3 separate regions of the Homo sapiens genome follow, and regions 2 and 3 are each linked to region 1. The links come from fine-mapping of genetic effects on gene expression. A gene starts in region 1. Each other region holds a variant in brackets. All regions are shown on one strand. Distances are from middle to middle.

Evidence for each region. PIP is the estimated chance that this variant, and not a neighbour inherited with it, causes the effect.
Region 2: its variant is fine-mapped to the expression of SCCPDH in lung (TOPMed, PIP 0.98).
Region 3: its variant is fine-mapped to the expression of SCCPDH in whole blood (TOPMed, PIP above 0.99).

Annotation. Positions count from the first base shown.
Region 1 is chr1:246,720,260-246,728,439 of GRCh38, forward strand. SCCPDH (saccharopine dehydrogenase (putative)) reads left to right here and starts at 4,150. Exons shown (of 12, transcript NM_016002.3): 1 at 4,150-4,353; 2 at 6,633-6,745. The coding sequence starts at 4,164. RefSeq lists an enhancer at 3,584-3,743 and silencers at 3,954-4,083, 4,124-4,193, 4,294-4,503.
Region 2 is chr1:246,751,224-246,759,403 of GRCh38, forward strand. It overlaps SCCPDH (saccharopine dehydrogenase (putative)), which reads left to right. Exons shown (of 12, transcript NM_016002.3): 6 at 7,003-7,133; 7 at 7,811-7,928. It also overlaps the pseudogene RPL35AP6. Among named protein-coding and RNA genes, the nearest start is that of SCCPDH, 31 kb to the left of the region's middle. RefSeq lists a silencer at 2,799-2,949. The variant A/G (reference allele first, on the strand shown) is at 4,441.
Region 3 is chr1:246,782,133-246,790,312 of GRCh38, forward strand. It overlaps LINC01341 (long intergenic non-protein coding RNA 1341), which reads left to right and starts at 7,485. Exons shown (of 2, transcript NR_015422.1): 1 at 7,485-7,566. It also overlaps the pseudogene KIF28P. RefSeq lists an enhancer at 612-731 and a silencer at 6,726-6,805. The variant T/C (reference allele first, on the strand shown) is at 4,000.

The DNA of each region.
Region 1 (8,180 bases):
GAAAAAACAACAGGATAACAGCAATTGTTCAGGGAATAAGAGAGATAACCTTAAATTCTGAGTGCCGGTGAGCCGGGCAGAACAGAGCCATATTTCTCTTCTTTCAAAAGCAAATGGGAGAAATAACACTGAATTCTTTTTCTCAGCAAGGAACATCCCTGGGAAAGAGAATACGCACCTGGAGGTATAGGCCTATAAACAGCCCCCCCCCAGGTGCACCTGTCTTTTATGGTTGAGACTGCAGGGGATGAAATAGACCCTAGTCTCCCATAGGGCTCCAAGGCTTATTAGGAAGAGGAAATTCCCGCCTAATAAATTTTGGTCAGACCAGTTGATCTCAAAACCCTGTCTCCTGATAAGATGTTATCAATGACAGTGGTGCCCGAAACTTCATTAGCAATTTTAATTTTGCCTCGGTCCTGTGGTCCTGTGATCTCGCCCTGCCTCCATTTGCCTTGTGATGTTCTATTACCTTGTAAAGTACTTGATGTCTGTGACCCACACCTATTCACACACTCCCTCCCCTTTTGAAAATCCCTAATAAAAACTTGCTTGTTTTTGCGGCTTGTGGGGCATCACAGAACCTACTGACATGTGATGTCTCCCCCAGACGCCTGGCTTTAAAATTTCTCTCTTTTGTACTCTGTCCCTTTATTTCTCAAGCTGGCCGACACTTAGGGAAAATAGAAAAGAACCTACGTGAATATCGGGGCAGGTTCCCCAATACTATTCACAATAGCAATTCTTGGAACCAAGCCAAATGTCCAACAATGTTAGACTGGATTAAGAAAATGTGGCATATATACACCATGGAATACTGTGCAGCCATAAAAAGATGATGAGTTCATGTGCTTTGTAGGGACACGGATGAAACTGGAAACCATCATTCTCAGCAAACTATCACAAGGACAAAAAACCAAACACCACGTGTTCTCACTCATAGGTGGGAATTGAACAATGAGAACACATGGACACAGGAAGGGGAACATCATACACCGGGGCCTGTTGTGGGGTGGGAGGAAGGGGGAGGGATAGCATTAGGAGATATACCTAATGTTAAATGATGAGTTAATGGGTGCAGCACACCAACATGGCACATGTATACATATGTAACTAACCTGCACGTTGTGCACATGTACCCTAAAACTTAAAGTATAATAAAAAAAAGATTTATCATGTATTCTTAACATTTTGTGTGCATATACATACATTGTTTTGTCTTAAATATACTCTTGTAATGTTAGGAAATTTGGAAGATTTTCCGTGTCACTATACACAGTTTTGTTTTGTTTTTTTTTTTTTAGAAACATAGCCTTGCTCTGTTGCCCAGGCTGCAGTGCAGTAGTGTGATCATGATTTACTGTAACCTCGAACTCCTGGGCTCAAGCAATCTTCCCACCTCAGCCTCCCAGGTAGCTAGGACTACAGATGCACATCACCACACCCAGCTAATTAAAAAAAAAAATTTTTTTTTTTTTTTTTTTTTTTTTTAAGAAATGGGGTCTTGCTACATTGCCTAGGCTGGTCTCAAACTTCTGGACTCAAGTGATCCTCCTGCCTTGGCTTCCCAAACTGCTGGGATTACAGGCGTGAGCCACTGTGCCCAGCCTACTTCATTCTTTTGTTTTTGTTGTTGTTGTGTGTTTTTTACCTAGAACCACCTGAATAGTCATTCTTCATTCTTTATAGCTGCACAGTTCCTATTGAATGAATAGGACACCATAATTTATTTAATAATTCCTCTGATAAAGGACATTTCAGTTATTTCTACTTTTTGTTATTACAAAGCAATGCTGCAATGACCATTATGTTAGTCCATTTTTGCGTTGCTTTAAAGGAATGCCTGAGGCTGGTTAATTTATAAAGAAAAAAGTTTATATTTTGGCTCATGGTTCTGCAGGAAGTACATCAAGTGTAGTGCCAGCATCTGCTTCTGGTGAGGCCTCAGGAAGCTTCCAATCGTGGCAGAAGGTGAAATGGAGCCAATGTATCACATGGTGAGAGAGAGACCAAGAGAGAGAAGGATGAGTGCTCTTTCAACTACCAGCTCTTGTATGAACTTATGCAGAGAGAACATACTCATTATCCTGGGGATGGCACCAAGCCATTCATGAGGGATCCACCCCCATGACCCAAACATCTCCCACCAGGCCCCACCTCCAATGCTGGGGATTACATTTCAACATGTGATTTGGGGGGGCCAAACATCCAAACCATAGCAAGCATGCTTCCCAAAAAACAAAATATATATATATATATATATATATATATATATATATATATATATATTCTGTTTTTTTAGGGTTTTTTGTTTTCTTTTGTTTTTATTTTCTTTTTAGAGACAATATCTCACTTTGTCACCCAGGCTGGAGTGTAGCTCACTATAACCTCCAACTCCTAGGTTCAAGCAATCCTCCTGCCTCAGCCTCCCAAGTAGCTGGGACTAAAAGTGCATGCCACTGTACCTGGCTCTGTAAGATTATTTTTTAGTGACTGTTTACTCCACTAGAATGTAAACTTCTTGAGGGCAGGGGCTTTATTTGTTGCCATATCCCCAGTACTTTATTCCTAGTGCCCAGTATATAGTTAAGTGTTTAATAAATACTTGAATGCTTACTACTTTACACCCACCAGATGGACAAGCATGAAGTCTGAGAATACCAAGTGCTGACAAGCACGTAAAGCAAGAGGATTCTTGTATCCCGCTGAGAGCGAAAATTAGTGCATGTGCTTTAAAGAGCAGTGAGATAACTCAAATATGGATATTCTAGCACCAACCATTTTCATTCCTGACACATATTCAATACACTTTCGCACAGGTGCTTTAGGAGAAAGGTACAAGAATTTTATTGTAGCATTCTTTGTATTATATTGCACAAAAGCACTATACAACATTGTACAAAAGCATTGTAGAATTTGGTGTATTTCTCTCTCTCTCCCTCTCTCCACACACGTATCACAGACATTTTTTTTTATTCTGAATCATTTGGGAATAAGTTCACGACATCATGACCAAATAAGAAAGCTGCAGGATTGACATTTACAAAATATTCAAAATATGCAAAACGGTACTATAATATTTATAAATACATACATATATAACAAGCAGAAAGATAGGAATAGGAATAATAAACACTAAATTCAGGCAAGTGGCCGTCTTGGGGACGCAAAAGGAAATGTGTTCAGGAATGAATACCTGGAAGCCTCGCTATCTGGAATATTTTTCTTAAGCTGTGTTGAGGGTACATATTTGTTATTGGCTGTACCTTTTTTGCAAGACATATATTTCAAAATTTTTAAAAGCATTCATTTATTCCTATTTTAATGAGAGTTTTTAAAAATCAGGAATGGGCTGGGTGCAGTGGCTCATGCGTGTAATCCCGACCCTTTGGGAGGCCGAGGTGGGTGGATCACCTGAGGTCAGGAGTTCGAGACCAGCCTGGCCAACAAGGTGAAAACCCATCTCTACTAAAAACACAAAAATTAGCAGGGCGTGGGGGCGCTCCCCTGTAATCCCAGCTACTCGGGAGGCTGAGGCAGAATCGCTTGAACCCAGGAGGCGAAGGTTGCAGTAAATCGAGATCGCGCCACTGCGCTGCAGCCTGGGCGACAGAGTGAGACTCCATCTCAAAAACAGAAAAGAGAAAAGAAAGGGAAAAAAGGGAAGAAAGAAAGGAAGAAAGCAAGCAAGCTCAAGGGTTCTCGGGGTGGGCCATCCCCGAGGCCATCCGCAGATTTTCTCGCACTCTTTGCTCCACCCCCACGTGCAACAAGGACAACCGGCTGCCGCCTCCAGCTTCCAGCAGGGCTAGAAGATGCGCTGCCCGGGGCGGCCAGAGCCCTGCAGAACAAACCGCCGCACGGAATTAGGGGCCGCCGTCCGCGCCTGCCAGGCTTGGAAGCGGACTCGCCCCCAGGGCCACCGCCCTAGGAAACCTCCCGTCGGAAGCCTCCCAAGCAAGCCGCTCACCCGCGGCTCCCGCGCGAGGCGGCGTGGGCGTGGGCGCGGCCCTGGCGCGGCGGCGCGCGCGGGGTGAAGGGAGCCCGGCGCGCTGGCTGCGGCGACGGCGGCCGTTGCTGCGCCGGGTACTGGGGTCGCTGCCTGAGGCGCAGGCGCCGTGGACTCCACCCGCCCCGGGGCCTGGGCTCGCTGTGGACTCGTCATGGCGACCGAGCAGAGGCCTTTCCACCTGGTGGTGTTCGGCGCGTCTGGCTTCACCGGCCAGTTCGTGACCGAGGAGGTGGCCCGGGAGCAGGTGGACCCGGAGCGGAGCTCCCGCCTGCCCTGGGCCGTGGCGGGCCGCTCCCGGGAGAAGCTGCAGCGGGTGCTGGAGAAGGCGGCCCTGAAGCTGGGTACAGCGGCGGGGCGGGACGGGGCTGCGCGGGCGGCTGGGCCGGGGACCCCGCATCGCCCCAAACGAGCGTTTCTCCCGCAGGGATGCGCCCTACGTGTCCCCGAGCCCTGCGTGAGGACAAGAAGAGGAGAGGGAGAGATGTTTCAAATACTGCCATAGCTTTGTCCCACCTCCTTAACTATATGTGTGTGTGCGCGTGCGTGTATAATATACACACACATTTTTTTTTCTTTCCTTCTCCTCTTTCCCGCTTTTTGCATTTCTGCCTCAGTTTGGGGAGCTCCCCTGGCGAAATGGTCAAGAACTTGAGTTGTCCCTCTCTCTGCTTCATCCTGCCCCGCAGCGGGGGCACCTGTTGAATCTGCGGGTTTCTAGATGTTTGGTCGGAGAGGAGAGGAGGGCTTTGGTCTCTTGGAGATCGGAGTCTCCCTTTGCCTCGTGTTTTGAGGACGGGAGAGCAAGCTTACGAGTTGTACTGACAGTGTCTTTGTGGCTATTCTGTTTTAGTTTCTTGTTTTGTGTGTAAGAATACTCCAGCAGTCTTCCTCTTCAGAGAATAAAAAGTGTGTATTTCTGGTTTAGACGCTTACGTATTCTCTAAGCATTCAGGTAGCATGTATTTATTGATAATCTAAGCATTCAGGTAGCATATATTTATTGATAATCTAAGCATTCAGGTAGCATATATTTATTGATTCTCTAAGCATTGAAGGAGCATATATTTATTGAGTGACGTTGTCCATGCTAAGACCTGTCCCGAGTCTGGGGTGCAGGATGGGACAGAGAGGAGACAGACACACGGATCCTGCTGCCTTCATGGCTGGGGAGACATCTGACTTACGACTCCGTAGCCTTTAAATTTGGCTATTAACTCCCGTAGATTTCCCTTATACAGACACCCATTAGAGTTCTGGAAATACTACATTCTTTCTGTTTAATCTACTTTCATACAATGCCCTGCTCGGAGTGCTTTTGTTCGTGGTTATGTACAGAAGACACCACGTAGGCTGGACTCTCCTACAGCTTTTGGTGCTGACACTACCAACACGTAATTCTGACCAAAGAGCTTTTTGGTCGTTATTTTTCCAACAGAAGTAATTTTACTATGAAAATATATGCTTCCATTTCTTTTTTCGGCTCAGCAAGATCGTACCGGTACAGCCTAGTCACTTATCATATATAATGCCCAAATCAAGTTTCATTGTGGGGGGATATACCTTCACCTATTGAAACCTGCATCACTTAGTTGAGCCAGTTAATTCCAATTATTTTCTTATGAGCCTGTGTGTGTTTATATAGCGTGTGCTTTTCACCTCAGAGTTCTAATTTTTTGTTTTTTGTTTGTTTGTTTGCCATTCTCCTGCCTCAGCCTCCTGAGTAGCTGGGACTAGAGGCGCCCGCCACCACGCCCTGCTAATTTTTTTAGTAGAGACGGGGTTTCACCGTGTTAGTGAGGATGGTCTCGATCTGCTGACCTCGTGATCCACCCTTCTCGGCTTTCCAAAGTGCTGGGATTACAGGCGTGAGCCACTGCACCCAGCCCTGATGGTTTTGATGTTAACAGTCAGTCCGAAACTCTCCATCACCTACAATTGGATCATAGTAATTGTTTAGTGGTTGATGAGAAACTTTATTTTTTTAAAGACAAGTTCTCATTCTGCCACCCAGGCTGGAGTACAGTGGCGTGATCACAGCTCACTGCAGCCTTGACCTCTGTGTCTAAGTGATTCTACCGCCTCAGCCTCCTGAGTAGCTGGTACTACAGGCTATGCCACCATGTCAGATAATTTTTTTTTTTTTTTTAGTAGAGACAAGGTCTTGCTATGTTGCCCAAGCTGGTCTGGAACTCCTGAGGTCAAGAGATCCTTGCACCTTGACCTTCCAAAGTGCTGAGCCACTGCCCCTGGCCAAGAAACTATTTTATGACATAAATTTCTTGTTGGAGAGGAAGTCTGGATAGTTATCTGCTCAGCATTTAAACTTGATTGTGAAATTGTCATGTTACACAGGGTTGTTATTTACACAACGCTTTGATTCGATTTTTTTTAAAAGGTCAGTTTTTTAGTAACTCTTAGTGTTAACTCAGTTTTCCTCATAATTTTTTCCTTTTGTATTACCTGATTAAAAACAGTTTTATCTTTTGTCTAAGCAGGAGAGCTAGCTTTCAGCATATCAGTGTATTTAGTAATTTGCTGTCACTGATTACTGTAAAAAGAAGATAAGGAAGATATAATCCTCTACTGGGATTTACTTTCCTTCATTTGTTTCTTATTTTAGGAAGACCAACACTGTCATCTGAAGTTGGAATCATCATCTGTGATATTGCTAATCCAGCCTCGCTTGATGAAATGGCTAAACAGGCAACAGTTGTCCTCAATTGCGTAGGACCAGTAAGTAATCAACCCTTCTTTGTATCAGAACAAACAATCCATTCATTTCTAGCAAAATATTCCAGAGGAACATAAGGACAGAGGACAGAATTGTTGGTTGAAGGCCTTAACCCCATATGGGGAGTTTTTTCTTCTTGCGAGGAGCAGCTGGAGATGACCAAAGTCTCCTGAGAGAGTGAGTGACAGGCTCTCCATGACGTTCTCCTTAGGGCATGTGTGCTGGCTTGTTGATTGGTTACATCTGTGATTGTCAGAATTTTCTTTCCTTTTTACTATATACCCCTTCGGTAAAAAATGTTTGAGTGTGTCTCCCTAGTATATTTTTTATTTATAAATTATATTCTTGTACTACTGGGTAAATATATTTTTTAAATGCACAAAAAGAAGACTAAAAAACGACTCATTTATTGAATAAATATTTATTGATGCTTACCACATGTGAAATGCACTATTGTAGGCACCTGGGACACAATGGTGAACAAAACAGAAAATCCCTCGTGGACATTACGTTCTTGGGGAAGACAGAAAAATAGGATTGTAATAGGAGGTAATGAAAAGTGCTTTGAAGAAAAGTGAAGCCAAGAAAGGAGAAAAGGTCCTGGCATATTGGTGTTTTTAGATGGATGGTCAGGGAAGGTTTCTGTGAGGAATTGACATTTGAGCCAAGATCTGAATGAAATGAGAGCAAATTGCATGAACCTTTTGAGGAGAGACTTTTCCAGGGACAGCAGGCACAAAGGTCCTGAGATGCCAGTGTGCTTGGCAAGACTGAAGAGTGTGACAGAGGCCAGTGTGGCTGGGCATGGCAGAGAGGTGGAGAGTGGATCAGAGAGCAACCCGGGAGCTGGGTCATGTGGGATCTTACGGGCCATGGCCAGGATGTGGATTTTTTTTCCAGGTGTGACCAAGAGGCGTTGAATGGTTGAAAGGAAGGGCTTCAGCTGATTTAAATTGGAAGTTCTTTGGCTTCTGAGTGGAAAAGTAGATAACAAAGGATGAGCAATGGAATGGTGCAAGCACAAGCCCTGGGGTCGTAGTGGTGCTGAGAAGTAGTTAGGTCCAGAGTATATTTTCAAAGGAGAACGGCTTTTGCTGTTGTACTGTGAAAAAGTCATCAAGTCACAGGCCATCAGACTTTTGGCCTGTGTAACAAGGTGAATGTTGGTGACATTTAGTGATCTGAAGAAGCCATCACAGTTGGCAAGATGTTTAAAAATTAAATATCTAAAATATTAATAATTTTTAATTGAGAGCAAAAGGGTTTTTGAATTGCTATTAAATAGAAGTGTTGTTGATTTAGATTCATCTCATTCTTAACTAGCTTAGATTCCATCCATGAGGTCCACTGCTGCACTCTATAATGGACGCCCTCATCTATCTCCCTTGCCTTTTTCTCCTCAGTACTCTGGAAAAATCCCAGCCCTGGTTATTCTCT
Region 2 (8,180 bases), 31 kb after region 1:
TAAAACCTTTTAGACATATTTATCCAATTTTAATGTCTGACCATAAGTTTTTTATAGACTCTTTTTAACCCTTTATAATTTTTGTTAAAGAACAGGTTAGTACTTTAAGAAAAACCTGTTGTGCTTTTATTTTAATGTCCAGTTTACAGAAACTTTAACCAATATGTTTACACACAGAATTTCCTTTACAATTAACTTTTCAAACCTTGCTTAAACCTTCAAAACAATTTTTAACCTTTTAATGTAGGTAAAAATCCACATTCTTATGCCTCCTTATAATCCTTTTACCAAAAGTATATTTTACTTTCCTTACACACCTTGCACATAAACTGTTTCTTCAATAGTTTTACATTCAGGAGGCCTAATTACTTTTCAATTATATGACATTTCTTGCATAAATTCCCTTTTATAACATTTTTCACGACTTTCACAGACGACCTTTGACATGCCTTAACTTTCTGACTTGTCGTAAATATCCCTTTCTTTAAACAACCAGTTAATTTACTTTAGGACAAGAATTTACCATATAAGATTCTTTTTACATAAATTCTCCTTTTTTTTTTTTTTTGAGATGGAGTCTCGCTCTGTCGCCCAGGCTGGAGTGCAGTGGCGCAGTCTCAGCTCACTGCAAGCTCGCCTCCCGGGTTCATGCCATTCTCCTGCCTCAGCCTCCTGAGTAGCTGGGGCTACAGGCTCCCGCCACCACGCCCGGCTAATTTTTTTTTTTTTGTATTTTTTTAGTAGAGACGGGCTTTCACCGTGTTAGCCAGGATGGTCTCATCTCCTGACCTCATGCTTCACCCGCCTCGGCCTCCCAAAGTGCTGGGATTACAGGCCTGAGCCACCGCGCCCGGCTAATTCTCCTTTTTTTTTAATGTCAAAGATGATAACCATTCTTTTCCAAAGCACACTGCCTTCATGTCTGTGGACTAGACTGCCTGAGGCCACAAGATTAGAAGTTAGGATCATACATGTTAGACTTAACTTTTAGCAAACTTTACTTTTGTTGAAAACCTTGTAAGTTTGGGATTTTAATTATGTGCTAGGTGTAGAGCCTAGGACCTAGACAGAAGTGCAGATGAGGTCTGGCTTCTCCTAGCATTTAACTCCATGTGTCCTAGGTTTTCCCTAGCTGCAAAGCAGGCCAGTTGTACAGCTAAGAAACGGTAGTCTGTTTGGCTATCTGATTAATAGCTCTAAGTTCTTGCACTAACCAGTATGACCCATCTGGCTTCTTTACAGGCAGAATTTGAGTGTTATAGGGAGACATACAGGGTTTAAGCAGCCCGTCACAGAGAAGACCTTCAATTATCAATTGTAGGTTTTAAATTTACCCTCACTTTTAAAGGAATAGGGTATTGCTTTCTCTTTTCTACTTCCCCAGGGGTTTTTAATTTTTTTAATTTAACACGAATCGGAGGAATCTGTAACTTTCCTCGATTCCTGTCTTTTGACCATACCTTGGGATGAATGTGTTCTTTGTCTGCGGTGGGGAGCAAGTTTAGGGAGGGGAGGAATTTTCCCTAATCAATATAGAGGCGTAAGCCAAATTTTAGTACTAAATCTCTCTCTGATAAGTTTGTTCCTGCCTCTGGAATTAACAGAAATTTAATATGAACTGATTTGCTTTTATATATGACTTTTGTTCTTTTTCCCATTTGGGACATTGTCTTTTGAAGTGACCTATTTTTAATTCGAAACATTTGTTTTGTCCTCTTTCTCTCCCTTTGCCTCTTCGTCTGTGTCTCTGTCTCTCTCTCTCTCCGCCTCTCTGTCTCTTTCTCTCTCTTTGCCTCTCTGTCTCTTTCTCTCTCTCTCTTTTTCTTTGACTCTCTCTCTCTCTCTTTCTCTCTCCTTGACTCCTTCTGTTCCCTGTCAGTCTTTCTCCTCTAGGATTTTTTTTCTCTACCTTTGAGTCTCCTGGCTTTACTCTTTCATCCTCTTTATGTTGCCTGGAGAGTGGGGGTCTAGGTTCTTTACAGGTTCTGGCCCCCTGGGTACTTTGTTGTATGGTAGACAGCAGAATTTTTGCTTTCTGCTTTTTTCTTCATCTCTTCTTACATACACTTTTTGGGCTTCTCTTAGAAGCTCTTCTATAGGTTTATCTTTCCAGTTCTCTATCTTTTGTAATTTCTTATTAATATCTGGCCAACTGTTAGTGACAAAATGCAGTTTTAACATTCCCTGCCCAAGAGGATCCTCGAGACCTAGACCAGCATATTTTCTCATTTGTTCCTTTAATCTAAAAAATTTTATAGGTGCTTCATCTTTCCCTTGCTGTACATAAAATGTTTGGGTAAGATTCTGGGATACTGATTCTTTAATCCCCTTTATTATCAATTCCCTAAGGTCCTGCATATTTTCTTGAGGGGCTGCATTGTTATTGTCCCACCTGAGGTTTTGGGCGGGAAATTTTTGATCCGCTGTAGGAACGTTTTGGCCAGAAGGGTGTTCACGTTCCAAGACTCCCATAGCAGTTCGACGGATCGTGGCTCTTTCTTCCCCCGAGAAGAGAGGAAAGGGAAGTTCTGAAAATCCTTTTTACATTGCTCTATCTCACGCTGAAGTCCTTTTAGGGAAGAGGACTTAACGCTCGTAGTGAGTGGGCTCCTGGGACAGTTCCCAGGAGGCAGGGTTATAAGGAGGGGGACAATGGGGATAGGAGAAGGGTCTGGGACAGCAGCTGCTTTTTCTTGTTTTTGGTCCTTTCATTATCCTTCTAGTATTTTAACATGAGACCTAGGGGGCACTCAAGGGGAATATCCTTGTTATCTTTGTCCTTCTTGGTCCCTGTCTTGCTTGGGGTATTTCCCATATTGGGTCCTGGTTAGGCCCCATCTCTCATCTTAGAGATGTGTCTCCTATCCTTTAGCCCCACCTGCTGGAGGCTCCTCGCATTCACACACACTTTCAACCCCCGCAGAGTATCCCGACCACCGAGGAAACGCTTGGCTGCTCCTGTGGTGTTTCTTACCTTGGTCTGTGCACAGAGTTACCTGGTCGCTGCGGTGTGTGATGATCCCTTTCCCCAGGTCGCCAGCCAGTTTCTTTCTGCATTGCTGAGAGTCCGGGTTTATTTGTCACACCCGGTGGGTCTTGATTCCTTACCCCTGAGGCCACTGCAACAAGGCAGCGGGGCATGCCTCCTCATGGGAGAGGACCAGACCCTTCACCAAAGGAGAATGGGAATCCCGGGCGGGCCCCCAAATTTGTTAGAAGTAAATTTTCAGTGCCGCAAAAGAAATAGCACTTGAACATAAATTTTTTCAACTAGGCTGTAGCAGGATAAGCTGCAGACAAAACCCCTCAGACACCAAGTTAAAGAAGGAAGGGCTTTATTCGGCTGGGAGCTTCGGCAAGACTCACGTCTCCAGCAGTCGAGCTCCGCGAGTGAGCAATTCCTGTCCCTTTTAAGGGCTTACAACTCTAAGGGGGTCCGTGTGAGAGGGTCGTGATCCACTGAGCAGACATGTGTCCGTTTCACCTAGGTTATCTAATTTGTTGGCATACACTTTTCATAGTATTCCTTTATACTCCTTTTTATTTCTATAAGGTTGGTAATAATGTTCCCTCTTTTATTCCTGATTTTAGTAGTTTGGGTTTTCTTTCTCTTTTTTTTGGTCTGTCTAGCCAAAATGTGTCAGTTTTGTTGACCTCTTCAAAGAACCAACTTTTAGTTTTGTTGATTTTTTCTATTCTGTTTCATTTATTTCCACAATAGTTTTTATTGTTCCTGGATATGAAATTAATATAAAAATCAGCTGTATTTCTGTATGCCAGCTACAGTTAGAAGGTGATTATTTTTGTAAAAAACACCATTTATGATAGCATTAAATAAATCAAGTACCTAAGAGTAAGTAATAGAAAGTGTACAAGATTTCTTTGAAGAAAACTGTAAACCTTTATTGAGGGACCATAAAGAAGACATAAATTGAAGGATCCAGCGTATTCATGGATTAAAATATGAATCCATTTTGTAGTTAATTTTCTTCAAATTTGTTTATAATCTCATGCAATTCCCATCAAAATCACAAACAGGTTTTTTTGTTTGTTTTGTTTCGATGTGCATCTGGACAAGCTGTTTCTAAAATGTATGTGGAAACTCAAAGGGCTGAGAACAGGCAAGATATTCTTGAAAGAGAATAAGGCAGAAAGACACTCTTGGAGATCAAGACCTGTTATTAAGTCAGCATAAACCCTTGACATATGGTAAAGGGGCTTTTCCTATCATTTTTCTTTTCTTTTTACAAATCCACTTTTACTGGTATTTATTTACTTTTCATTAGTTCAAATCCTTGAGGAGTACAGCATCACAGAGCCGCCGTGACTAGTGGCCTAAGCAGGACGGCTGCTTTGGAATTAGGCACACATTGTGCCACTGTTTCCGTGGGCACACGTTACCTTTCTCCACCTTACTCTGGTTTTGTTTGGTTTGCTGCC[A/G]GGAGTCAGTATTATTCTTTGTACACATAAGCGCATTTCCTGCCCAAATCAAATCTCATTTTATGTCAGCCATAAATACCTTCAGTTTTAAGAAGAGCTGTGTCCTCCCTTTGGTTCTGGAGATCCTGCTGACGGCAAAAACGGCCTTGGACCACAGCTTTCCAGGCATACTTGTCATTTAGAATTCCTCCTCCCAGCAGGCCTCCGGGCTTCAAGTTGGCAGGAACAGCAAGGGGGCTTTTCGGTAGATGCTGCTGGGACAATTGAGTATCTACTTGGAGAAAAAATGGAATTGGATTCATACTTTTGCACCCCGTACCAAAATCAAGTTTAGATGGATTGTGGATGCCCTCACGGTTGGGAATGGCTTTTACAAAAAGACAAAGAGGCATTAAATGTAATGAAAAAGTGATACGTTTGTGTACTTTTAAAATTGAGAATGTTTCCCAAAACACACGATTAAGAAAGTCAAAAGGCTAGCTGCAATGTAGGAGTTACTTACAACACGTGGTAAATCCTGACATCACAATTTTGAGCATAAGAAGCCAAACACTCAGTAATAAATCTTGCTTGATTGCATTTCTGTAGAGCTTAGAAACAGGCAAAACTAATTGTACTGTTTAGGGATGAATTCTTAGGTGATTAAACTCTAAAGAAAAGAATTTTTCTTGATTACTGTAAAGGCAGGACGGAAGGAGGGCCTTCTTAGTTGCTGGTTACCTGTAGTTCTTGACCTGGATGTTTACATGTACGTTGGCTTCATAACATACATGAATATACAATTTAATAAAATTGTATTAGGTACGTCTCTATATTTTTCTGTGAAACGCAAATAGTTTTTTAAATTGAATGTAATTTTTTCCTTTTCAATGGCTTAGTTGTATAAGAAAATATGTTTAGATTTTTAAAAAGCTGTTTTCTCCTGGTGTTTGGAATCTTTACATTTGTAGAGATTCACATAGGCCCTTTTGGCTAGGCTCAGATTGAGTAGATAACAAATCAAACCTTTAAGACTTTAGTTCTGTTGTAGTTTTAATAAAACAGAAGAAATAAATCTGTACCAGAATGAAAGTTAGATTTGGTATCTCTGCTTTTCAGTATCATCAAAGCTGAGATAGGAAAACCTGAATCTTTGGATGGTTTTATTGTTTCTCTTATTTTGTTTATTAACAATGAAAGGTACCTTCATATCTGCCTCCCACATATCCCTCTTTGAAAATCTTGTGACAGAATTAGTTTTGAATCTTTCTGAATTACTCTGTTGACCTAAACAATGTAAACAACATAGAAGGAAGGACATAATACAATTATGTACAATCAATATAATAAATGAAGTTTATTCCTGTAATAGAGAATTAAAAGGCCCACCTAGAGGTTGGGAAAGAAAGGTCAGTGCTAGGCCGGGCGCGGTGGCTCATGCCTGCAATCCCAGCACTTTGGGAGGCCAAGGCGGGCGGCTTGCCTGAGGTCAGAAGTTCGAGACCAGCCTGGCCAACATGGTGAAACCCCGTCTTTACTAAAAATACAAAAATTAGCCAGGCATGGTGGTGGGCACCTGTAATCCCAGCTACTCGGGAGGTTGAGACAGGAGAATTGCTTGAACCTAGGAGGCAGAGGTTGCAGTGAGCTGAGATCGTGCCATTGCACTCCCGTCTGGGTGACAAGAGCAAGACTCTGTCTCAAAAAAAAAAAAAAAAAAAAAGGGCCAGCGCTGTGATAGTAAATTCAGAGGTCGTGTCCTCTCCTGGGGTCTCAGCCACTCGTTTCTCGGTGGCGCTAGAGGTAAGGGTTGGGGAAGCTGTAAAGAGTATTGGTAGAATGGAAGGCACTGACAGCCCAAAGTCTCATGAAAGGATGAAAAATCAGTGAATAAATGAGAGTCTGAGTAAGATCAGGCAAATACTAAGGACTCTGTACTGGCTGTGATACCAAAAAGAAATCAAGGGATTGAGGAAAGCAATTAAAATACAAATCATTATTAGTGAACTTTAAATGTTTTAAACAATTATTTTACTAAGACTTCAGTAGGAAGACAGATCTATAACTTGGGGCTAGAGTAAGAGGTGTTGGAGGTAGACGGGGAACCAGGTGTAACAGGATGGAGAGATGGACAGTACACAGTGTATGTATGCATAAATGTGCACACGGACATATCCAGAAATGTTGAGGAATTTGTGTAGGATCGAGAGAGGATTAGGGTGGCTATTCCTGCAGATCATATGGGGCAGAAAAAAAAGGATTAGAGTGGCTGATCTTGAAGGAATATGGTCAATTAGTTGAGTAAAATTGATGAAGTAAAACTAAATAACTTATTACAGAATATAAAGAATGATAGGAGGGGAGAAGAAAGGGCTTCTCGGTGTAAATATTGGGTATGATCAAGCTAATGAATGTGACTGCTCCCTAGCTGGTCATGAAAATTCTCCTCAAGATTATTAAATCAGGGATTATGTCTTGTCCAAATATAAGTGAAATATTGTTTGTAACAATGATAAGTTACTTGGCTTTACATTTTAGTAACTACCCTTTCATGTTTCTTTAACTCTTGAAATATTTTATTAGGGGTTGAGCATTCATGATGGTACCTGGAAGTCAGCAATTTATGGTTTTGGAGATCAGAGTAATTTGAGAAAACTAAGAAATGTATCAAATCTGAAACCTGTCCCGCTCATTGGTCCAAAATTGAAGAGAAGGTAAATTAACTTAAAATCCATTTTTTATATATCTAGTCTAAGTATATTGTTGTTGGGTTGGCTATTAATAAAGTATGTTACTAAGAAAAGCTTGGAGACTAATTTGTAGTAAGTTCAGAATTGTTTTCACAGATAAATAAGATATAATTAATCCATTACCATATGCTTGAGATAAATAAGATATAATTAATCCATTACCATAAGCTTAAGATAAATAAGACATAATTAATCCATTACCATAAGCTTAAGTACTTCGTGTGTAATAAAACATGTGAATCCTAGGAAATAAGTGAATCTTATGATGACTTTTCACTATCAATATAGAAATTAACTGTCAACTAAATTTTATGTGAGAACTTTTTTTCTTTTTTAAAAATTTATTTTAGTTTAGTTTTATACTGCAGGACATATGTGAGAAGTTTAGAGGTAAGAATTTAGGGTTGGGCTGTTGAAAGGAGCGTTCTGGTTTTTTTTTTCTTTTGAGACAGAGTCTCTCTTTGTTGCCCAAGTTGGTCTCAAAGTCCTGGCCTTAAGTGATCCTCCTGCCTCGGCCTCCCAAAGTGCTGGGATTACAGGCATGAGCCACCATGCCCTGCCACTGATTTGCTTATTCAGACATTTACCAGCCAAAGTTGTAATTGCAGGAAATGCAAAATATTCATAGGTCTGTCTTGCAGGTGGCCAATTTCTTATTGTCGGGAACTCAAAGGTTATTCCATTCCTTTTATGGGATCTGATGTGTCTGTTGTAAGGAGGACTCAACGTTACTTGTATGAAAATTTAGAGGAATCACCAGTAAGTATATATGGTTTATTTATCAATAAAGTGTGTGTTACAGTTCCTCTTTCTATTCAGTGTGGGATATTTTTGTTTATAAGGCAGAAAAAGGAAGAGCTAAGTAATACATGTTTCAGCCTCTGGAAATACACAGAATCATTAGGGTAGAACATTTTGTATTTTATAACCTTGTCTTTTGATTCAGATCTGGCTGCTGAATATCTTTTTAATGTAACACAATAGCAGCAAATTCAATACGGGAAATCCTGC
Region 3 (8,180 bases), 62 kb after region 1:
CAAAAAAAAAAAAAATATGGGGGCAGCAGGGAACAACAGGAGTTCTAGTCATTGTGGTTTTTCTGTTTGTGTTTTTCTTTTCTTTTTAAGACATGTGATCTTGCTGTGTCACCCAGGCTGGAATGCAGTGGCTCAATCTTAGCTCACTGCAGCCTTGAACTCCTGGGCTCAGGCGGGCCTCCTGCTTCAGCCTCTGAGTAGCTGGACTGCAGGCGTGCGCCTGCACCGGCTTATTCTGTTTTTTTCTTAAAGACTTTAGGGAACTAAGATCATGGGAATCTAAATAATAAATGAATTCACTGCCTCATTACCTCTGGATATCAGACCACAGGCCTGGTGTCAGTTAAAATTGCATGTCATCCTTGGCCTGAGGAGGAAACAGGTCGGCGAGGCTCCAGGATAGGCTGCGAGCCCATGCTGACTCCCGCCTGCTCCCGGGTGGGCTCTGCAGGCCTGGCTCAGAGTTCCCTGGCAGGATGTGCTGCTCACCAGAGCCAACAGCTGTTGGGTGAATACTGCTGAAAGGTAACCGCAAGCTGGCAGCATTTCCAGGTCAAAAAACCCTCCCCAACCCTCACACAGCCCTGGTTTGCTCGTGAGCTTGTCTATGATATGTGACTCCCAACAGCTGCACAACACTGCGTCCTCCCTGAGAGCTGCAGCAGCAGTCACCGTCCACACGGTCAGCAGGGAGGATAGGTAAACACATACAAGATCAACCGCAAAGTAGCATTCGTGTTTCTAGCTGGGACCCACAGCTGTCTCTGCTGCTCTTCTAGTCTTCGGAAGTGCCTGTCTCACATGCACTGCCAACATCTACACACCCTGTCACAAGAGACCCCCAGACCACAGCCTTCCAGACGTCTCCATCTACACACCCTGTCACAAGAGACCCCCAGACCACAGCCTTCCAGAAGCCTCCATCTACACACCGTGTCACAAGAGAGACCCCCAGGCCACAGCCTTCCAGAAGCCTCCATCTACACACCGTGTCACAAGAGACCCCCAGACCACAGCCTTCCAGAAGCCTCCATCTACACACCGTGTCACAAGAGACCCCCAGACCACAGCCTTCCAGAAGCCTCCATCTACACACCGTGTCACAAGAGACCCCCAGACCACAGCCTTCCAGAAGCCTCCATCTACACACCGTGTCACAAGAGACCCCCAGACCACAGCCTTCCAGAAGCCTCCATCTACACACCGTGTCACAAGAGACCCCCAGACCACAGCCTTCCAGAAGCCTCCATCTACACACCGTGTCACAAGAGACCCCCAGACCACAGCCTTCCAGAAGCCTCCATCTACACACCGTGTCACAAGAGACCCTCACACTACAGCCTTCCAGAAGCCTCCATCTACATACCATGTCACAGGAGACCCTCAGACCGCAGCCTTCCAGAAGCCTCCATCTACACACCATGTCACAAGAGACCCTCAGACTACAGCCTTCCAGAAGCCTCCATCTACATACCATGTCACAGGAGACTCTCAGGCTGCAGCCTCCCAGAAGCCTCCTGAGGAAAGCAGGGCTTCATCTGAAGACAGGTCACTGGCACTAAGCTTACTTGTTTTTTTGAGACAGGGTCTCTGTCTGTCGCCCAGGCTGGAGAATAGTGGTGTGATCACGGCTCACTGTAGCCTCGACCTCCTCAGGCTCAGGTGATTCTCCTACCTCAGCCTCCCCAGTAGCAGGGACTACAGGTGCTCACCACCATACTCAGCTAATTTTGTATTTTTTGTAGAGACGGGGTTTCACCATGTTGCCCAAGCTGGTCTCAAACTCCTGAGCTCAAGCCATCCACCCACCTCGGCCTCCCCAAATCCTGGGATTACAGATGCGAACTACCGTGCTGGGCCTAATCTTACTGTTTTAATGTAAAAATGGACAGTCTTGAGGAAGACAGATTGGTAAGATTCATATCTTCATGAGAAAAAAAATAGAAAAAAAAAAAAACAAACTGTACGACCCCCTTAAAAGAGAACCTGGTATGTTTAAGCAGAAGCAGTCCTATCAGACAGCTACCTGTCCCAGTGACAGGATGCTGGGCTGAAGGAAAATGAGGGCATGAATCCAGGCCCTCAGCCCTCCCATACAATTCTCCCAATGATAAGTGTGAGAACACCGTCTCCTGTTCTGTTTCTGGTAATGACAGGCAGGTGCTCATGAGTGTCTTCGTGTGCACTCAATAACCCTTCTGTTAGCAACAGTTTAAAAGGCTATTTTTCGAACTACCTTGGACTATAATACAAAATAGAATAGCATGGAAAATGGTTTTTTAGAATTACAAATTTTCTTAAAACAAGGTCTGACAAGACAGGAAACTGCCAAGCCAAATTCTAGGGGAAAGCCTGGCCCGAAAGAGGCACGTGGAATATCGGGGCACCAGAGCCACTTTGCCCCAGTGGCCTTTGCTGGAAAAAAAAGAAAAATGCAAAGTACAAACACACTGAGGGGTCCCCTCCAAGGCCTCACGGAACATGGCAGAGAAGTCCATGCTGACTCCCTAGGGTGAGGGTCTCACGGGAGACCCTGTCTGCATCACACAGACCTGCAGGAAAGGGGCCGGTCTCTGAGGAGCTGGGCTCCAGGAGGATCCTTGCTTGGTTTCCTCCCTGGGGCAGCATCTTGGCAGCCCCAGCACCTGGAGGGCGAAACCCCGTGGACGGGGTGGTGGATGCAGTGCACAGGTGCTGACCACATGGGACGCACACACATGCTTATAGTCTTAGCTCATTTCACAATTTTTAAAAGCTTTACAAAAATCGGTCTCGGCCCAGAACATTTTGGCAATTTTCGGGCGATGAGCAGATGAGCAGAAAAGTGAAACTCAGAGAAGCTTCAATTGCTGAGCAGGGAGGGAGCAGCCCGGGGTGGGGGCCGGAGGCGCAGTCTGGAAAGGCAACGGGTGAGTGTGCTGGAGCCGGAAGCCTGAGGGCTGCTCCTCCAGGGGCCTGATATGCACAAGGGGTGCTGCAAGATGGGCCTGCATTTCTGTTTCCTCCTTTGGAGGCAGAGGGAGAGGAAACAGGGTCTTAAGTTTCTAAAATGGAATTTCCTGATAGTAAGGTCCAGCCAGTGGAGTTGGTGAAACAGCCTTTTCTGGAGTCCCTAGGAGGATTGCTTTTCTCATTGCTGCAGAAAGGCAGTCTGTGTTCTCACGGGCACATGTACACACAAACACACACTTGCACACACACACACGCACCTACGTGCATGGACAGACACCACTACCACTTGTATAAACTCCCAGGCTCCCTTCTGGTACAAAAGCCTTTGAGTCATACTCAGCATGAACAGATGCTCAGTGCAGGCTAGCTTAGGAACGCTCCCAGGAGCTGGTGCTGTGAGGGAGGGTGCAGGACAGGGAATGGCTGGTGCTGGGAGGGAGGACCCAGGACAGGGAACGGGAGAGTGGATCCCCCTGTTCCCCAGAGCTCCAGCTCATACTTGGAATACGTTTTGCCCTTGACTGGGTCTCCGGAGGCTGCAGCTGGTAAAGATAACCTGTGTCCCCATGGATCCTCACCTCCTGGGTCCCGTCCCCGTGGATCCTCACCTCCTGAGTCCCGTCCCCGTGCGGCCTCACCTCCTGAGTCCCGTCCCCATGGATCTTCACCTCCTGAGTCCCTTCCCCGTGGATCCTCACCTCCTGAGTCCCTTCCCCATGGATCTTCACCTCCTGAGTCCCGTCCCCATGGATCTTCACCTCCTGAGTCCCTTCCCCGTGGATCCTCACCTCCTGAGTCCCGTCCCCATGGATCTTCACCTCCTGAGTCCCGTCCCCGTGGATCCTCACCTCCTGAGTCCCATCCCCATGGATCCTCACCTCCTGAGTCCCATCCCTGTGGGGCCTCACCTCGTGAGACCCGTGGTGGGTCACCTTCACCAAGACCTCCTTCTGTAGGTCATAGCCCCTGGAATCTGACGATGCCAAATTTTTCACCTTCAATTCCATGTTAAGTCCCTGGTAAAAGAAACACTTCTCACTAAATAAT[T/C]GTACATTCTGCTGGGCACAGTCCCTCATGCCTGTAATCCCAGCACTTTGGGAGGCTGAGGCGAGTGGATCGCTTGAGCCCAGGAGTTCAAGACCAGCCTGGGCAACATAGCAAAACCCCATCTCTACTAAAAATACAAAAATTAGCCAGGCATGGAAGTGCACACCTGTAATCCCAGCTACTTGGGAGGCAGAGGTGGGAGGATCACTTGAACCCGGGAAGTGGAGGTTGCAGTAAACCATGATTGCACCACTGCATTCCAGCCTGGGCGGCAGATTGAGACCCTGTCAAAAAGAAAAAAAAAATCCTACATTCACAGCTCATACCACCTTTGCAATTTATTTTTCATTCTCCCACCCTCGGGCTTCCTAAATGATGAATGAATAAGACTCTCTCTAAGATGTCCCACTCTTGCCCCTTGGATTTCCCACTAAGAGGAAAGACAGAGCACCAGATTTTCTCCATTATATCCTGGAACTAACACTTGGAGTCCCTACCAAATTGATTAAATCTCTTACAAGGTTCCGGCCGATGGGAGCTCACGTCTCCAGGGAGCTGTCCCCAGCCCAGGTGGTCTGTGTGGCACAGCAGCCATCAGGGTGCCTAGACCCGGAGAGGCCCCAGGACCATCTGGGAGGGCCTGCTCATGGCCAGCAAGAGTTGGTCTGGGATCCCGGTGGCCCTGGTAGGCTGTTGGTGAAAGGAATGGTACTCGGGCCTGGGCTGGGCAGTCTGGCTTCTGTGGCTAGTTCCCTGAGAGTCCCTGGGAACGCACCCCTGCCCCACAAGGCCTTGAGGTCCTTTCTGCACCTGGCACACCAGCTCCTGGCTCCAGCTAACTTACCTTCTTTGGCTCTTCACTCATTTGATTTGCTTCTGAACCAGCGGCATCAGTTTGATGTAGTCCTGGAACGCAGCCAGGACACTGGGGCCCGCCTTGCCGTCTCCACCGTCCGCAGCACCTGGCAACAATCACAGTGGAGGCGAAAGTCAGTCACTTGTTCCGCCATGAAGAATTTTTTTTTTTTTTTTTTTTTGAAATAGAGTTTCACTCTCGTTGCCCAGGCTGGAGTGCAGTGGCGCCATCTCGGCTCGCTGCAACCTCTGCCTCCCAAGTTGAAGCAATTCTCCTGCCTCAGCCTCCTGAGTAGCTGGGATTACAGGTGCGCACTACCACACCCGGCTAATTTTTGTATTTTTAGTAGAGATGGGGTTTCACTATGTTGGCCAGGCTGGTCTCGAACTCCTGACCTCAGGTGATCTGCCCACCTCGGCCTCCAAAAGTGCTGGAATTACAGGCGTACAGGCATGAGCCACCATGCCAAGCCCTTTTTCTTTTTTTTTTAGACAGCTGTCTTGCTCTGTCGTCCAGGCTAGCGTTCAGTGGCATGATCTCTGCTCATTGCAGCCTCCACCTCCCAGACTCAAGCAATCCTCCCATCTCAGCCTGCTGAGTACCTGGGACTACGGGTGCAAGCCACCATGCCTGGCTAATTTTTAAAATATTTTGTAGAGATGAGGTCTCACTTTGTTTCCCAGGCTGGTCTTGAACTCCCAGGTTCAAGCGATCCTCCTGCCTTGGCCTCTCAAAGTGCTAGGATTACAGGCATGAGACACCACGCCCAGCCGCCATGAATAAATGTGTATGCTTATTTGTTCATTCATTTGTTCAGCTGTTCATCAAATATCTACATTTTAAAATTACAAGCATGTAATTTAAAAACAAACAAGGGAAAATGACACTGCCTGGCTTCTCCTTACGTGGTTGCTTATCTCGACCCATGAATCCTGGCCGCAGGCAGGAGGTCCTCTGCCCCCAGTTCCCATTCTTGGTCTCAGGGTCCTTGACCCAAGGTGGCTCCAGACTGGAGGAGGGTGGGGCGAGGTGAAACATGGCTGGCTAGACGGAAGGCCTGGAGGTATCCTCAAGCTGCTGCTGGCACAGCAAGTGACCTGTGCTTCTCTTATACTTGGGGTGGCTTGAAGGAGGGGCTCGTGGAGATTATGGGAGGATCAATCTCCCTCCCAAACCCAGGCTGGTACTGCCTCTAATCAGGAAATCTCAACTCTTAGAGACCCCTGGCCTGTGGGTGCACACAGTGCCCTTGGCCCTGAGGTCTGACCCCAAACTGCTCACACAGCTGCTGCCTTGTTGGGGACCCAAGTCTTCCCTAGGGTCCGAGCCAGGGTCTGGGGCTGGTTCAGCTTCATGGCGCCACCAGGGCCACAGGGGCAGTGGCACGGTCAACCTCTGAGGACAGGTCAATGAACAGATGGCTTTTCCGGGCCTGGTATGACAGAGTCTTACTGGTTCGTTGTTTTGTTTTGTTTTGTTTTGTTTTGAAATGGAGTCTCGCTCTGTCACCCAGGCTGGAGTGCTGTGGCACGATCTCAGCTCACTGCAACCTCCTCCTCCCAGGTTCAGGCAATTCTCCTGCCTCAGCCTCCTGAGTAGCTGGGACTACAGGTGTGTGCCATCACATCCGGCTACTTTTTTGTATTTTTAGTAGAGACGGGGTTTCACTGTGTTAGCCAGGATGGTCTCGATCTCCTGACCTCGTGATCTGCCCGCCTCGGCCTCTCAAAGGGCTGGGATTACAGGCGTGAGCCACCGCGCCCGGCCTTGTTCATTTTTAAAAGTCGAAAACTTCAGCAGAAGAAGAGCAAGGAGGTGAATTTCTAATCGATTTATTTTGCTGAAATTCTGAGAGAAACACTGTGGTGTGGGGACAGGGAGGAGCTCTTGCACACACACAGGTGGATCTGCCCACTTTCCACCAGCGGTTTCATTACTGCGAGTTCAGGCAGAGTCCCGGTGCCGAGCAAAGCGTGGGGCCCCTCCGGGAAGCCCGCAGGTCACTCAGATCGCAGCGGGCTCCGGCCTGGCCAGGATTCTGGGGGAGCCGCCCGGAGCGCGGTGAATCGGGGCGGGGAGAGGGGCGGGGAAGGCGCGCGAAAGCCCCAGCAGAGACCGGCAGCGGCGGGCGGCCCGCGTGGGCTACTGCTGGGGGCTGCGTTCGGGCGAGGAGGGGAGATTCTGTCTCAGAGGCCTCGGGCTGCACGTTCTTCCGGGCCGCGCATTTGCAGCCCACAGCAGGCCCCAGCCGGCCCCTCTGGAGTTGGGCCACTGCTTCTGCAGGCCCAGCAGGCCCCTGGGGGCGGCCGGAGGCCACTAACTGGCTTCTCCAGCTCAGCATTCTTCTCTCATTTGCTGGGTACCCCACTCTCTTCTCTACCCCTTTGAACCATCTTTACCCTCATTCCTCAGGGAACGTTTAACGAGTTGAATGTTTACCATGTAGTCACTCTATATGGAAATCATAATTCAATTTTGTAAACATCAGACTTTGACAAAACAAATGATGATGTTCTTAAGGAAAGCAGAGAGACACAGTGTGAAATCGCTGCTCTCAGATCAGCACACGGGAGAGGCCAGCAGTCAGGAGGGGGCTCACCGAGTTTGTCTGCACTCGCTCCCTCCGCAGCCGCCCTCTCCAGCTGGAAGAAGTCGTAATCGAACCTGCTCAGGTCCTCACTGCCCCACTCCGAAGGAAACCCCACGTACAGGTAGGTGCTGTTGGATCCCAAAATCAGGCGGTCCTGGGGAGGAGACGGTGGGCTCAGGAGGGGTTCGAGGCCAAGGAGGGTGAGGTGAACCTCCCCAGTGAGAAGGATCTGAGGAATGTCCTCCCCTCAGGAATCCCCCAGACAGGGAGAGACGCAGACAGGAGGGAGGTGGCCTCTGGCTCCTGCGTTCACCTTCATTGCACACATTGAGGGCGTGACTCCCTTGGCCCTGGGGTTCTGTGGGGACCACCCAGAGCCAGGCCCTCCCTCCACGCTTTCCAGGCTGGTCTGGGTGAGTGCAGCAATGGCTGCAGGGGACACCAGGACCTAACTCAGACTACAGGCTACAGACGGCCTTTTCCGAGGCGTGATGCCCAAGCTAAGCCCTCCTGGGCGGTAAGTCTTGGTGAGGCAGAGACGGCTGCTGAACAACCAAAAGAAGGGCAGTGTGGCCAGGGACAGGAGGCCGAGGGAGGTCACTGAGGGGGCTTTCCAAATGGGGAGCGGCCAATCCCCATCTGCCTGTCCTGTCTGAAAGGCTGTGGCCACCAGGGAGGGGAGAGGGCTGCTGGGAAGCTGGCAGGGGCCCCAGGGTTGGCAGATTGGGGAGGAAG